Regions from separate parts of the Homo sapiens genome. Here region 2 is linked to region 1. The links come from fine-mapping of genetic effects on gene expression. Tissue or cell type: sigmoid colon. Region 1 holds a variant in brackets; the other region holds the start of a gene. All regions are shown on one strand. Distances are between the middles of the regions.

Region 1 (8,108 bases):
CATTAAAGCCCCCTTTAAAAGGAAATATTCACTGCAATGTACACAGCAGGACAGATTCAGAAAGCTAAGTTGCATGTCAAAATCACAGAGCTAGTAATTATCAGAGTAGAGTTTCCAAGCCAGATATGTCTGACCTCATGCCAAGGGCACTGTTCCATGTGCTTCAAAATGTAATGTGGTATTCATATTTGCAGCAGTTTTAATGGCCTCAAAGAGTAGTAGTATAACTGAGGGTGGAGTGGGATGGCAAAAAAACCCTGGAATTATTGAGAGAGGGGTGTCCTGTCAGAGGAATGTGGGTTTCTTTTTTATTTTTAAAGATCTTTTTCTGAGCCATGTTGTGTTACTATTTACAGCTGCATCATGACCTAAAGGGCCTCTTATAAGCCTCCTTCTCAGATAAATTATCTTTCAGAACATTTTTCACACCCAGCCTCAGGAGACATGTAAATGCCTCTATGTAAAGTCTTTGGATAGAGAATGGTGATAGAGCTTCTTTTGCAGTTTATGAAGTTCTACTTGATATAACTATTATTCTCCAACACTATCGTGATATATAAATCATAATAATCACAGGATATTGAAATTTTAAGTTTTTTATCCCTTATGTAAGGCTCATGGAGGCAGTCTATAATAACAATAGTAGTAATAGCTAACATTTATTTGAATGCTTACTGTGGACAGGACCTATGCTTTGTGATATAATATGGGTTACCTCATTTCATTTTCTCAACAACTCCGTGGGGTAGGAGTTGGGATTTGAAAGGACCAATACAAAACATTCATATTTTCCCTAAGTTCTAAGCCAATTTAGAGGTAGAAACAGGAATTAAACAGATGAAGATCAAAATGCCACCCTAAAGGCTAATAATACTGATAGTTAAGGCACGAGGCTTAGGACAACTAGCCAAGTAGGGTTGCAATACTTTGCTCATGAAAAGGAGCCAAGTTGTAGTCACTGTCAGCTCTTAAACAACCACAGGCCTCCTTGCAAGGGCATCTTCCCCTATTTTACTTATAGCACAGAATTGCTGAGGAAGATAAGCTTCTCTACAAATAGGCAGATCCCACATGAAAAAAAAAAAGAGAAAGAGTGTGAGGTGAGTGTAGGCAATGATTTCTCCCAAGGAAACAGATAAGCAACCCCTCTTACAGCGAAAAGTGAGGAGAAGGAGAAGAGCCAGGAGTGTTAAATCTACTGGAGTCTCCACCCCACAGGATCATGGAAAAGGAGGTCTTTGTCCCCAGCTGTAGGTACTAAACATGCGGCTATCCTGCAGATAAGGAATGAGGCACTGAGACACTAAGTGACAGTTCACTATTAGTAAGTGGCAGAGAAGTCTAAATAAGGTCAGTCCATAAGTAAGAGGTAGAGTCAGGGCTGAACAAGCCAGGCTAGGACGGGCTCAGGCTCAGTTCAGGAACAAGGCAATGGAAAATTAAGATGGGAGGGCAGATGTGAAAGGGATTACAAAAAATAAGTGATAAGAGTTGGATTCACTTGTAATGAGAGTTGGGATAGAGTCAAAATGACTCAAAGCTTTTAGCATTTCTAGTTGGAAACAATGAGAGCATTAAGAAAACAGTGTTTCCAGGAGTGAATAGCCAGTGTTTTTGGACATGAGAGTTTGAGGTACCCTGCAGACTATTGGAAATTTGAGTCTGTAACTTGGGAGAAAGATCGGAAGCAGAGATGCAGATTTTATAGTTGTCCATTTAAATAAAGGTGATAGGTGGCTGAAACTAAGGGAATGCTTAAGTCTGAGCAGTGAAAGAGGAAGTTGGTTTCACAGATGAGTTTCATCTTTGAAATACACTAAAAGATTTGAGTTGGTAAACATCAGCAACTTGATCTAGTTTAAAGGCAAAGCCCAGCGTGAGCTCAGGACTTGACTTCACCTTTTTACCATAGCCCTAGAATGCTGCAAGGCAAGCTTACGGATCACACTGGTATGCAACACAGTTTTTGTTTCCCCCTGCAGGTTCACTGTCCATCCCACTTCCACCCTGTTCTCTGACCTGGGAGGCTGAAAACATTTATGGACTGCATCAGTTGGGCTCCCATTGGGTTCAATTACCTCTGAGACTTGGAATGCAGGAGTAGGTGTGGCTGATGTGTTTACCTCCTTGGTTCTTTCACTGTCAGATCCTGTGGACTGACTGCTTCCCTTCAACAGGGACTTTCTACGTCAACTCTCCAAGATTCTAGTAACTGCTCTCTCCCTCTGCCCCCTTAAGTCTAGAGGTGGTAATAGTTTCCCACTGTTACTAGACCCAAGGCACTCCACTTCCTTTATTAAGTTCTACTTGATGTAACTGTTATTCTCCAACACTATCATGATATAGTGTTGTTAGATATTATTAACACTGCTTATACCTTTATAAACAATGTCTTTATTGAAGTCTTCCCTTCCCAGTTCCTTAAATAATATACCCAGTAAACCAGAAAGAACTCATGTTCTCCAAGGCACAAGTCCTACTCTTAATAAACAGAGGGACTTCATCGGGGTGGGGGTGGGGGCGGGGGCAGGGCAGGGGCCGGTCTCAGAACTGGGAGGGAACAATAGACTTAGTACAGAGACTGTAAATCCATATGTACATATAATATTGTTGGTGGACAGAATATCTTACACAGTTACATGATTCTTCAAATGTGTAAGTGCCTTAGTGATTCATAAGAAAATTTATTTGAAAATTCATCAAATTTATTTTACTTATTGTCTTTATACAGATTCTTAACTAACAAATGGCTTATGGCTTATATTAAGAATATAACTATTGCTGTGTTTGGCTAAGGACATCTTTTTTTTTTTTTTTTTTTTTTTTTGAGACAGAGTTTTGCTCTTGTTGCCCAGGCTCAAGTGCAATGGCACAATCTCGGCTCAACGCAACCTCCTCCTCCTGGGTTCAAGTGATTCTCCTGCCTCAGCCTCCCGAGTAGCTGGGATTACAGACATGCACCACCACGCCCAGCTAATTTTGTATTTTTAGTAGAGATGGGGTTCCTCCATGTTGGTCAGGCTGGTCTTGAACTCTTGACCTCAAGTGATCCGCCCACCTCGGCCTCCCAAAGTGCTGGGATTACAGGCGTGAGCCACTGCGCCTGGGCTGGACATGTTTTTAAATGTACAGACTGTACTCACATGCAAAGAATCTGGGAATTACTTCCAAGGACTTTGTTAAAAGTTCATCAAACTTTCTTCGGTTCCAAACTAGAGGGAGGTGGAATGAACTGGTTTAACAATATCTATTTCTATCAGGATAGGAACAAAAACGACCATCCGTATCTTGAAGGAATTTTTGTAAAATCATTTCTAACTCATTTCACAGCAGAAATTCAAGCCCCCGTCTTACAAAAAAATAGTACACCACATTCTCAGCCTTGGCAACACCTTGTCCTTTGTGTGACCTGCTGTGGCTCAAGCAGTGAGCAGAGTCTACAGAACACAAAAATAAACATCTCTACAGGCCTGTGGAATGTGATGGCCAGCGTGATGTGGGGCAGACTGTGGGCCGAGTGCCAGGCCCTGTAGGTGAGCCCTCCTGCGGCCCACTTTGCAAAAGCAGAAAGAAGGGGCAAATCTGCCAGTGAATTTCTGTTTCCACCTTTGGCCTGGTCTGGGGTCAGGGCCTAGGTATGTGCCCAGAGAGATGTAGTCAGTTAGGGTTCTATGACCCCAGTGCTGGGAAGGCTGGTTATGGTGGATAAAAAGATCAAAGAAAGGGTTTCTTGTTACCATTCTTCAAGCTCCGTGTACCATTTCCCCATGTAATTTGAGAAATTATCCTGAACCAGAGAACTGGGAAGTTTGTTCAGTAACTGCTTATTGAGTCCCTGTTCTCTCCCAGGCATGATCCTAGGCACTGGAGATAGTGGGGAGTGGGAGCCTCCAGGGTCCCTCCTCTTAGGGATCTCACACTCTGAGTGCAGAACTATGTTCTTCTGCCTGCACTCCTACAAACACCAGTTCTCCGTAGTACTCCATGACATGAGGGGTTAATTTCTAGCTGACTGAAATAATGGACTCATTG[C/T]CCCTCCCATTTCAACAGCATGGCGGATGGCAGCGATTACAGAGTGAAGGAAATATCGTGGTATGGAGAGCAGCACTGTTCTCAATAATAGGCTCTCTGATGACGAACAAAAAGACTCTGTGAAATGCATCTCAAACTCCCAGGTTCTCCTTTACAGCCAAGATGCCTCCGATATAATCTGACTTAATGATGCCATACTCTGTAACAGAGTACAAAATTAGAATAAAAGAGTTATACAAGGCACTGAGTTAGACACAAAAATTTATTCATGGAACTACACAAGTATTGAGCACCGACTTTATGCCAGACACTACACCCAATGTTATACCAGAACCCTATTACTGCAGAAAATGTAGTTGGGGGCAAGCTTCTGGTTATGAATTGCACATTCAACCACTCAGAAGTAAGCATTTTTCTGATGTTGCCTAGAATCGGTGGCTCTGTGGATTAGGAACTGAAAGGGTGGGAAAGAATTTTGCTTTCTACTGTCTGCCTCGTATGTGAATCACGAGTTGTACCTTTTTCTTCCTTTCTGTAGACCAAATACCATATAAATCACTCTGCTGTTTATTCTAAGTCTTATGTAAAGTGTTCCTGTCCTCAAAGCATCACACACAATGTAGAGGCTTTGGCAGTTTCTTTAGCAAAGGTCAGTGTTTCAGTTTAGTGCCCAAAGGTCTCTGACAAACATCCAAAAATTTCTGGTTGAAGTCAGTAATTATTTACTCCCGTTACCAGGATTTGTTTGAGGACTAAGCAGAGAGAAGCAGAAAGGAAAAATAAGCACATCAAAAAAAGCAGTCTTAGTCTCTCTTCACCTAGAACATTATATATGTATTGTCTCATGGCACATGTGTAATGTCAGTAAACAATAAAAATAAATAAATCAATTTCCAGTTGAAGGCATCTCCAGGATCCAGAGGCTCTAAGTGGATGAAAACAATTGGGTGCTTGGGCCAGAGACTGTGCAAGCCTAAGCAGAGAGAGAGGGGTTTCTTAACTTCCCTCCCACGTTCAGTCCCTTTGGAACTCGAGTTTGCCCCTAGGATAGAAGTCTGTAAGGCTACCAGCTGGAACCCTTTGCTACACTGCTGTAAAGGCTGTGCAGAAAAAAATGTTGGAATTCTCTCATACTTGGAAAATTACCCTTTAATACACATGGTTTCCTCTCTGTTTCCTAGCCATAGGCCAGGATGTTAACTGGGGTGGGGTAGAGGCAGACATTTAATTCTTGTTAAGAGGGAGTAATAAAATGTGAAGTGATAGGGAGCCAATCTATCGTTTTCTGAATATCCACAAGAGGCTTACATTTAGCAACAACATTTAGCAAACACATGTCAGGCACTGTTTAGTTGCTGGGGACACAACATCCAACATGACAGTTATGGCTTCTACCAAGACGCAGCTTAAAGGCCAGGGAGAGGCAATGGTTTGCGGTGAATAAGAGCACAAGCTTTGAAATCAGACCTGAGGTAGAATCTTGGATAGAGCATTCCTTACTTTGTCTGTAAAATGGAGATTATAATACCTACGTCACAGGGTCAAGATGAAGATAACATGGAATAACATATATGTAGCAGTGAATTCAGAGCCTGGTGGATTCAGTGCCCCTAAATAGTAATAATCATTGTTACTGTTATTACTTTGTGGCTTATTCTGTGTTCCAAGAGTCAGACACTTGAGCTCTGAGTGCTGGCTGGTACCTCCGTGACATGAATGCCACACTCTGGTGTGCGCTGTTTAGAGAGAAGCTGGTTGTGTTAAATACTGTTCGTTTTCTAGTTATAATGGTTGATTTTCTTGCTTTGTGAAGATTAGACCTCTCTGATGAAGATAAAGTGCTTTCCATGTTTCTTTCAGCTGAATGGCCATTTAAAAACTAGTGACAGTTATTTACACTTTTATTTCTTATGACTTGAGGGGGTTCTCCCTGGTGAAGGCAGAACTTATTTCATTCATTTATTAGGCGTAGAGTAAGCTCTTATTCTGAACCAGGCAGTGTGTTTGGGTGCGTGTGTGTGCATGCATGTATTTTGTTTGGGTTTGGGTAAGGTGAGAGGAATTGGGGGAAGATGCAAAGGTGACTTGCTCTGGGAGTTAAACAGTCTAGTGGGAGACAGAGAGAAAGGTAAATAGATAACAAGAATGTATTTGATAAGTGCCAGGAAAGGCATACACAGAGATCTCCAAAAACCTGGAAGAGGGAGATGCCTGTTTTAAGGCATAGAAGCAGTGGAATCAGGAGTGATAGGTAATTCAGGTGGGGAAGTGTGGAAGAAAGGAATTTGAAGGTAAAATGAATAGCATGTAAAAAGATATAAAGCCTGAGTTTTTCAGTGAGTTGAAAGAAATTTATAGTATTATAGGATAGGTGGGTATGGTAGTGATGGGCTAGGAGTGAGGCTGATATTTGGCTAAGGAGATGATCATATTTATGGGCTGAACGTGGCTTCTGCTGAGGACTTCAAGGACCAGCCAATCCTCAGGCAAACAGATTATGGCTGAGGACACTGAGTTTCCATGATTAGAAATATTATCTGTGTGTTTCCCTCTTGCTTCTCTACAGAGACAGGAGTGAGTGTGTAGATCAAAGAGCTTCAAATGGGACACATTAAGGGTTACAAAGGTACCCTAAAAGAGTACCTCCCCACTGCAGAGGTAATAGTAGAGTTCATTTAGAAATCTTCTCTAGTGAGTTGCGGTAGGGTTGAAACTTACTCGTAAAACAATATAGATACGAAAAAAATTACAACTTGTTTGTTGCTATAATAAATGTAAACTTCTTCATAAGCCTCCATTTTAAATGAAGGCAAGAGTGGGGAGTTTATTTTGCTGCTTTTGTCCTCTCTAAAAAACCTTTGCCTATTCCCAAGTTATAAAGATTTTTTTCCCTCTGTTTTCTTCCATAAGTTGTATAGTTTTCTTTTACGTTTACATGTTCTATCTATAGGTTTGGTATAAATGGAGTGACAATAAGAGTCAAGATTCATTTTTCCCCATGTGAATAAATGTGTAGGTCTGTATCTGAACTTTCTATTCCGTTCCACTAATATAATGTGCCAATATCACACTGTTTTGATTACTCTGGTTTTAGAACAAGTCTTGAAATCAGTTAATGTAAGTCTTCAACCTTTGTTCTTTCTTTTAAAAATATTTTGGCTTTTCTAGGTCATTTGCAGTTCCATATAGATTTTAGAATCAGCTTGTCAGTTTCCATTAAAAAAAAAAAAAAGACTGCTGAGGCCAGGTGTAGTGACTTATGCCTGTAATCCCAGCACTTTGGGAGGCCGAAGCAGGAGAATCGCTTGAGCCCAAAAGTTTGAGACCAGCCTGAGAAACATAGTGAAACCTCATCTCTACAAAAAAATACAAAAATTGGTTAGATGTGGTGGTATGTGCCTGTAGTCCCAGCTGTTTGGGTTGCCGAGGTGGTAGAATCACTTGAGCCCAGGAGGTCAAACCTGCAGTGAGCCATGATAGCGCCACTGCACTCTGGCCCAGGTGACAGAGTGAGATCCTGTCTCAAGAAAATAATAAAAAAGAAAAAAATTTAAAAGAAAAAATACTGACCAGGCACGGTGGCTCACACCTGTAATCCTAGCACTCTGGGAGGCCAAGGCAGGTGGATCCCTTGAGGTCAGGAGTTCGAGACTAGCCTGGCCAACATAGTGAAATCCCATCGCTACTAAAAATACAAAAATTAGCTGGGCATGGTTGTGGGCACCTGGATTCCCAGCTACTCGAGAGGCTGAGGCAGGAGAATCACTTGAACCTAGGAGGTGGAGGTTATAGTGAGCCGAGATCGCCCCACTGCACTCCAGCCTGGGCAACACAGCAAGACTCCATCTCAAAAAAAAAAAAAAAAAAAAAAAGAAAGAAAAGAAAAGAAAAGAAAAAAGAAAGAAGTAATGCTGCTGGAATTTTGTTTGGGATTTCACTGAAACTATCAACTAACTTAAGTAGATATGACATCTTCCAAGTCTTCCAATCTGTGAACAGGGTATCTCTCTTTCTCTCTTTTTTAGGCCTTTGTAAATTTTTCTTATTGCTGTTTTATTATTACATTATTATTAATG
Region 2 (8,094 bases), 59 kb before region 1:
TCTATCTTGACCTGGACACCCCAAATATTACTTATCTGTAGCCAATGTTCCCTTTTTTTCTGTACTGAGTCCACACATTCTTGTTTGACCAAATAACAGGAACAAACAATTCTTTTCATAATGGATGTACCCTAAGGTGTCAGGCTTCTCAGAATCCTATCTGAAAATTAATTCCACTGAACCATGGTGCAATAGGATTTTAGTTAACACACGTGTTATTTATTGGCTACAAATGGTAGGGATTTGACAAAATATTCTGTGCCTCCAGGCCAGAAAAGTACAAATAGTACTCAATTCTGAGTAGGGAAGAAGAGGAAGGGAGAAAGTTAGAACACAACTATTAATGCATGTGGAGGTACCAGATCAGCTGACCACATCAGCGAAAGGTTACTTAACTAATAATGATGTACCATTAATGCCATGTCCCTATTAAAGAAAAAAAATATTCAATGTCACTTGTTACAGCATGGTAAAGAAGACTATTCAGGACCATTGAGACAGATACAGGGACCACTACAACGAAGACTTGCAGTAGGGTAGAGAGATGGGGCTCCACTATGAATACAGCAGAGGAAAATCGGAATTTATAGCCAAGAAACAGGATATGGGACTCTAGTTAAATCGACCTAACAGGATTCTTACTAAAGACAGGCCAAGGTGATTAGATATCACCTGGAGGACAGTGGAGGATGAGGAACCCTTGGGTGATCAGTTGTCAATGGGAAGGGACGTTATTGCCAAACTGATTTTGCCGGGTTCTTTGATAAACTGGAATTTACAAGGAAATACACACATGGTCTTAGGAGAAAGTTCAGGAGCCTGACTAAAGTTTGGCCAAGGAAAAAAATCTTTGTCATTCCCCAATATTTTTAAGGTAAAAGACTATTAATACTAATAAGGATTAATATTTTTTACACATGTATAATATGCAAGGCATTGAATTAAATACATTCTATAGATTAACTCATTTTGATTATCACAAAGCCTCGATGTAGGTTTAATTTTCATTCTATTACTTGCTTTTAGACAGATGAAGTTCTGACTATGACTTGGAAAAGCTGGGTATCTGGGCTCATTTCTTTACCAAAATCCTGGCCTCTAAGCGTCACTGTCCAGTAGAACTTTCTGTGATGAAGAAAACGTTTTGAGTGCTATCCAGTATGGTAGACATTAGCCACATCTTGGAGTGAAGCACTTGAAAGGTGATTAGTGCAACAGACTAGTAGTAAAAAAGAAAAAAGCAAAACACACACAAGAAACCTCAATTTTAATTACGATTATAATTAATTAACTAAAATGTAAATAGCCATATTTTATAGCCGTGTTGGGACTGTGCAAACATAGCACATTTCCATCACTGTAGAAAATTCTGTTGGACAGTGCTATTTGGAAGAAATGTTGCTCCTTCCCTTTCCTCCTAGGTTGGATTCTAGGGTTCCTTTGCTTTGCTTTTCTTCTGCACAGCGATAGCAGTCCAACATTCTCCACCCCCAATCCTCCAGCCTCAGTGAAAGGAGATTGTTTTGCTTTGTGCATCTCCCTTTCTCCACTTCCATGCTGCCTGTCAGCAGCTATGTCAGGTCTTGAGCGTGGAACCCCAAAGGGGTAGGCACACAGAAGTGACCCGTCTGTATCCGGCACTGCCTATACGCATTGCACTCACCATCACCATCATCAACCCACAGTTACTGAACTCGTAAAGGATGAAAATCATCCTGCCAGAGATAGAATCAGACACACAAAATCTGAACTTCTAATGAAACAACAACATCAGTGACACAGCATTGAATAGAATAAACACAGTATTAGCTTTGGTCTTTGCTAGAGCCCCCTGTAAGTGGTGACTTAGACGAAAGGAAGCCTTGTGCGGTGTCCTAGTCTCCAAAACTTTAAAAACTGTTGTCCTACATTATTTAAATGGAAAGTGAGACTTATTTGCCACCCAAAGCAATGTTTAACTGAAAGAAGCATTTTTCTGAAACTCAAAGGTATTCAAGCCTTTAACCTAAAGACCTTCACGGCTGAGAGGTCAGGGCTCACTCATGGCAGCCTCTACATTTACAGGTTCATTTTCAATGCTAATGAATTCTTTTACAAGCTGTATTTGTTCTTTCTTTTGTGAGTTTTGAACATTTATTCACTAATCATCACTTAAATCTAACCTAGGGTTTTTTGCAAGTGAAAATAGGACTTAAATTCAGATTTATAGTTAAAGGGCAGGAAACTGAGAGGAGGGGGATGACTAAAAATAGCCAGAGGGTAAAATGAGAAAGGACTATACTAGACTATTTAAAAAAACCCCTGGCTTGCACAGTGGCTCAAGCCTGTAATCCCAGTGCTTGGGGAGGCTGAGGCAGGAGGATCCCTTGAGCCTAGGAGTTCGAGACTGCAATGAGCTATGATCGCACCACAGCACTCTAGCCTTAGCGACATAGTGAAATCCCTTCTTTAGAAAACAAACAAAACGAGACTCCTTCCCAAAAAAAAAAAAAAAAAAAACATACCTACGGTGCCTTGCTGCGTGGCAAATGCTCCCTACTGTTCATCAGTAACTCTTTGTCGGGCAGATCATGAGGTCAGGAGTTCGAGATCAGCCTGGCCAACATGGTGAAATCCCGTCTCTACCAAAGATACAAAAAATTAGCTGGGCGTGGTGGCACGCGCCCGTAATCCCAGCTACTCCGGAAGCTGAGGCAGGAGAATCGTTTGAACTAGGGAGGCGGAGGTTGCAGTGAGCCAAAATCGCACCACTGCACTCCAGCCTGGGCGACAGAGCGAGACTGCTTCTCAAAAATAATAATAATAATAATTCCAAAAAGCCTAATTCATTTTGAAATTTTGACATACAGCGAAATCACCAGGGAATCTTGCAAAAAATGCAGATTCTGATCCGCGGTTGGGCCTGAGATTCCGCATTTTTAACAAGCACCCAGGTGATGACCTCGCTGTTGGTCTACGGGCCACTCTTGAAGAAGTGAGGACGTAGGCTCCAAGATATTGGAACCAGACCTTGTCAGTTCAGAGGCCTTGCTTCTGACAAGGAGAGGACTTTACAGAAAGTTCGCCTGGAACCTGTCCTACGTGGGGTACGTCCTGGCAGCTCCCTTTTCAGGCTTTGAGTCAACGTTTGGGGAATTGTATTATGTACCGGGCGCCTACACCTCACTCATTTCATACTCGCAGCAACAACATGAAGTGGGCGCTATCATCCTTTGTTTTACAAGCAAAAGTGAGGCTCAGAGAGTTAAATTGCCCAAGGTTATGAGATTTTCAGATGCGTTGAACCCAGGTCCTTTTGACTCCAAGAGATAACGCTTTTCACTAGCATTCTGGAGCTTCAGTTTCCTGTGCTGTGAAATGGGAAGGATTGGCTAGCAGGGTCCGGATCCCTGCCAGATACACCTAAAGGAGGCCTTGTATTTTTTCTCGAGATCTTGCTCTTTGACCCTGAGGGGAAAAGTTCTTTTTGGGAACACCGAGCTCCCCTCGGCTTGCCGAGGTCAGGGGTCATGGCTCTTCCCGGGGAGGGTCCGGCAGTCCTAGAGCGGTTTGGCTGGGGACACAGAAAGCCGGTGCATTACATAACCGCGAGACGTCCCTCCTCCGCTGCGCCCCTCGCCCCTAGCCAAGCCACAGTACTTAGAGCGGATCCCCGCGCTAAATCCTCTTTGCCGGCCAGGCAGAGTCCCCGGCGGAGCTGGCGGGGCTGAATGAGCCGGTGCATTTCGAAGGCCGAGCACTGGGATTTTCCGCGCTACGCTTCCCTCTCCCGGCGTTGCCAGCTAGGCCCCCGGCCCCAGCCTCGCCGGCGCCTCCGCCCAGTCCGCTCCCCGCCCCACCGAAGCGCGGATCGCGCAGCCTGGGGCCCGGGAAGGGGCCACTGCGCAGGGACGCGGCTCGGCGGGTGCGCCCCGGGGGCATGTCCGCGCGCTACCGCCAGGGCTGCAGTGGTCCCGGCGAGGTGAGGAGGCGGCGGGGCCGGGCTGGGGGCGGGTGTGGCAGGAGGGCGGGCGGGGCATGGGGGTGGTCTGCGCGCTCTGGGCGGGCTGCAGAGCGCTGGAGCGCTGGAGCTCTGGGCTGTCCCGGGCTCAGTCTCGCCGGCGGCCCCCGCTCCCGGATCCCCAGCGCCCTGGCCAAGAAGCTTCCTCGGCTCCCCCTCTTCCCTCTCCCTGACACGGTTGTGCAGAGGGCGCGGTGGCTCAGGTGACACGGGCATCCTTCAAGGAAGGGCGGCGGGACGGCGGGGCGCTGGCGCTGTCGTTGGAGCTGGAGGAGGACGGGGACCCTCCATTCTCCGCTGCCCTAGCGCCCATCCCGCGCCGGGAGCCTGGGACCCTAACTTGGGTGCGTCGGCGCGCAGCTTGGGTTGGGAGGGAGACACGTGCTCACTTGCCCTGTCTGGGTTGGGTCTGCGCTGCGGCCGAGTTTTTGGGCAGGTGGCTGGAGAACGAGCGGCTTTGATCTCCATCTCTTGTGGTTTTCAAATGCAGACTTCTCGGTGGAATAGAGACCATCTTTCTTCTGGATTTTATGTTTATAGTACATTTTAAAAATCTCTCCCCGTCCCCCACCTCAGACAATAATATTTATTTCCCGTGTGTGCTATATTAAAAACACACCGGCTTTCAGTGGATTGAACTCAATTTCTCAGTTGCTTCTTGTCCACAAATAAACCAGTGATACCTGTATTGTGGACTCGGAAAAGCGTTCGTAACAAAATTTTGAAGCACAATTTCAGTAAGTCCTGGGGCTATTTGGTTAGTCTTCCGTTTTCACACATCAGCATTCTAAACCTCTTATACTATTTATTTATTTAGAGACAAGGTCTCGCTCTGTCGCCCAGGCTGGAGTGCAGTGGCGCGATCTCAGCTCATTGCAACCTCCGCCTCCCCGGCTCCAACGATCCTCCCTCCCCAGCATCTGGAGTAGCTGGGACTAAAGGTGCGCGCCACCACGCCCGGCTAATTTTTGGATTTTTTTTTTTTTTTTTTTTTTTTTTTGCAGATACAGGATTTCGACATATTGGCCGGTTTGCTCTCGAGCTCCTGGGCTCAAGCGATCTGCCCGCTTTAGCCTCCCAAAGTGATGGGATTACAGGCGTGAGCCACCGTGCCTGGCCATAATTTTTAAAAATGTCTAGTCAGGTGAGTCCTGCCAGGAAACTGGTTAAACACTCTCCTTTTGAAGAGCCTCTAATTAGTTCATCCTACCTGGTTCTTTGCTCAGAGCTAGGCACTCCCGCGGCGTCACCAGCTTAGCCCAGGGGGAAAATCTTCCGGCCTTTCAAATTCAGAAACACATTCGCTCCACAGGTGTAAGCTCGCTAACAGTTAAAATCATCAGCTAGCTGCCCTTGCATTGTTTGTCGCTCCCCCTCCATAAATGTCGTGCCAAACTGTGGCTAATGGTGTTTGACATCCTCCACCCCCTGCGCCCCCAAGGTGACCGGATGTTTGCTGAAGAAATGAAGGATGTAAAAGAGTAGTGGTAGTAATTAGGTGAACTGGATTTAGTCACTTATAATTACAGGGTTTAGAGAAACTTTGAAACTGAAAGGCTTTGGAGACCATCTACTAAATTCAAACTCTTCACGTTACAGCCCAGGAAGCTCAGATCCAGATTGGCAAGGATTGGCTGAATTCATACTGTTAACTGGTGATGGAATCAACACTAGAATCCAGATCTTCTCATTCCCACCTAACTCAGTTTTCCAAGGCATATTGCCTCTAGGCATTTTGAGCAAAAATAATATGACTAGCATCACCTAATCACATCATTTTCCTGTTCTTATTTTTTATGTTTTTTTTTTTTAACTGATGGGATTCTGAAATAGATGAGAGGTTGATTTAATCAAATTGCTTTTGTGGCACAATTTTTAAAGGTGCAAACCTTTAATTTTAAGTAATATTTTAAATTATTTTTATATTATGGATATACAGATACTTCTCAGGTGAATGCCCAGAAGAAGAAAATTAGTCCAAATAGATGGGAGTAACTCTACCCCCATCTTTCCTTGGAGTCTTTTCTGATTCTCAGCACCCTCTATGGTAATGATCGATCAGAAGTAAAAACATGAATTATAGTGTTGAAGTGTTTTATATGAGGACTGTTTGTTTATTGTGATTAATACTATGACCAAAACAAAGCTAAGAAAGGAGTTTCAAAGTGACTTATTTAACATTGCATTGCACTGCATATTTTTCAATTTAGTTCAATTGAGCAGATATTTATTGAGTGCCTACTGTATGCCTAGTGCTGTTCTGGGCATTTGGGATATGTCAATGAACAAAACAAAGAACTTTGATCCTATAGAGCTCAAGTTGCAATTTATTCACTAGAATTTTTCCAGGATTTCTTAGGCAGGTACAAGAGAATTTCAGTTTTACCTAAGCAGGAAAATAAACATAAGTGATCCAAACTATCTTCCTTCCAATCCTGCAATTCTGAGAATCTTATAATCATGGAAAAAAAAAAAACTAAAAACGACAACAACAACAACAAAAAAACAAATTCAGGTGAAGTTACTTTGACTTTTATGAGCTGACATTTTACTGTAAGTGAATTGCAGTTCCCACATTTGGTTATTTAATATATGTTCATTTGGAGTCAATGAAATTACATTTCCTTTATTGCAGGGAGATCACCTTGGTGACTAAACTTGAAGCACGGGATGATTTGTTTTCTTAAGAGTGTTAGTGGTACCATGTTAGTATTGGAGACTAATTAAATTAGTTTATAAGATGTTGCTTTTTATTTATTTATGAAGATGGTGTTCTGTTGTTATTTTGTCTCACTTTACATTTTGTCCCCCACTTTCCTCCATATTCATAGACTATTAGACATTCCAGTTTTAAGCATTTTCTAATTCTCTCAATTGCTTTTTCTTCAAAACAGCATAGTTTGCAAGCTCAGGCATGTTTATTGTTTTTAACAAAGGCTTATCGAAATGAACTTGGCAGTTTTTCAGTCGTATACAGCCAAAGAAAAGTATTCAGTGCCGCTTTTGGGGTTGTTTATGCATTCCTCACCTAACCAGTTGCTTTGCTTTTAAAAATTGCCAATTTGGAAGCTATTTTCTTATGAGTACCTTTCCAGTGTATATAAAAAGTCACCCATTGAAATGATATAATAATTTAATTGATGAAAACTAAATACACAGTTGAAGAGGTTGGGGGATTTTGAACAGAAAGATTTTCCCTCTGATAATATTTTTAATGTGCTCTACATCAAAGGACATCAGAAAGTGTCATTATCTAACAATGTCCTGTTTGAAGGTGGTGTCTGTTGAACATTTGGGGAACAGTCACAATTTCTGATGCATGCTAGGCACCTGGAGTAGCTGATTTTTTTTTCTTCATTCACCCACCACTGTGCCCCATCAGATACATATCCTTCCTTCATTTACCGCGCATTGACGAGTAGGGTTAATTGCTGTAGCCAGGTAAGATGTTGCATGAAATTAATTAATTATTTAATTAGTGTGCTCATTCATTTATTAATTTAATGAATATTTATTGAACTTCTACTTCTTATTAAAAGATTTGTATAAGGATTTGTGTGAAGACTGTGTTTTGAGCATCTCTTTTCTGGTGCTGGTGACAGCAGGACGTGTAAAGACACAGAACATGCCTCTGATGCAGCTTACATCCTGGTATGGAAGAGAGGACATTGTATGGCTAGCTATCATACCGATTCAAACTACCATAAGAGATGCATAAGTACTTTGGGAATTAAAAGGAAGAAGAGAGAGCAGGCAGGCACTGTGAAGATTTGAGGGTTAGGGAAGACTTTGTAGAGGAGGGCCCATTGGAGTTGCTTCTTGAAAGATGGTAAAGCACGGTAAAGCTTTTATAGAGGCAGAGGATATACCTATCTTTATGGCAGCACATCCTTGCCTCTTTTTGAAGACACGTAGAGAACTTCCTCTTGGGAACCAGTTGAGGCTGTGTTGGGTCATATAATAGACACTTATCACCTCTCTGCCCCTCTACATGCATGTGACTCTGTTCTGCTTAATGAAATACTGCCCAACACTGAAACAACTCATTGGATTAACCAATGCTCTCCTCCTCTGAACCACATCCTGGTGGTTGC

Which allele goes with the higher level. Alleles are on the strand shown, and positions count from the first base shown. SD is a standard deviation of normalised expression in the study named.
For the expression in sigmoid colon of the gene that starts at base 4,051 in region 2, T is the high allele of the variant in region 1 and C is the other (large effect, 1.2 SD a copy in GTEx).

What was found. PIP is the estimated chance that this variant, and not a neighbour inherited with it, causes the effect.
Region 2: SLC16A12 starts here. The variant in region 1 is fine-mapped to the expression of SLC16A12 in sigmoid colon (GTEx, PIP 0.99). The same link has a PIP of 0.9 or more in tibial nerve.

The regions. Positions count from the first base shown.
Region 1 is chr10:89,472,284-89,480,391 of GRCh38, reverse strand. All of the region lies in intron 2 of SLC16A12 (solute carrier family 16 member 12), which reads left to right. Among named protein-coding and RNA genes, the nearest start is that of SLC16A12-AS1, 20 kb to the right of the region's middle. RefSeq lists an enhancer at 3,525-4,025. The variant C/T (reference allele first, on the strand shown) is at 4,033.
Region 2 is chr10:89,531,551-89,539,644 of GRCh38, reverse strand. SLC16A12 (solute carrier family 16 member 12) reads left to right here and starts at 4,051. Exons shown (of 8, transcript NM_213606.4): 1 at 4,051-4,203; 2 at 5,005-5,144. RefSeq lists an enhancer at 4,885-5,784.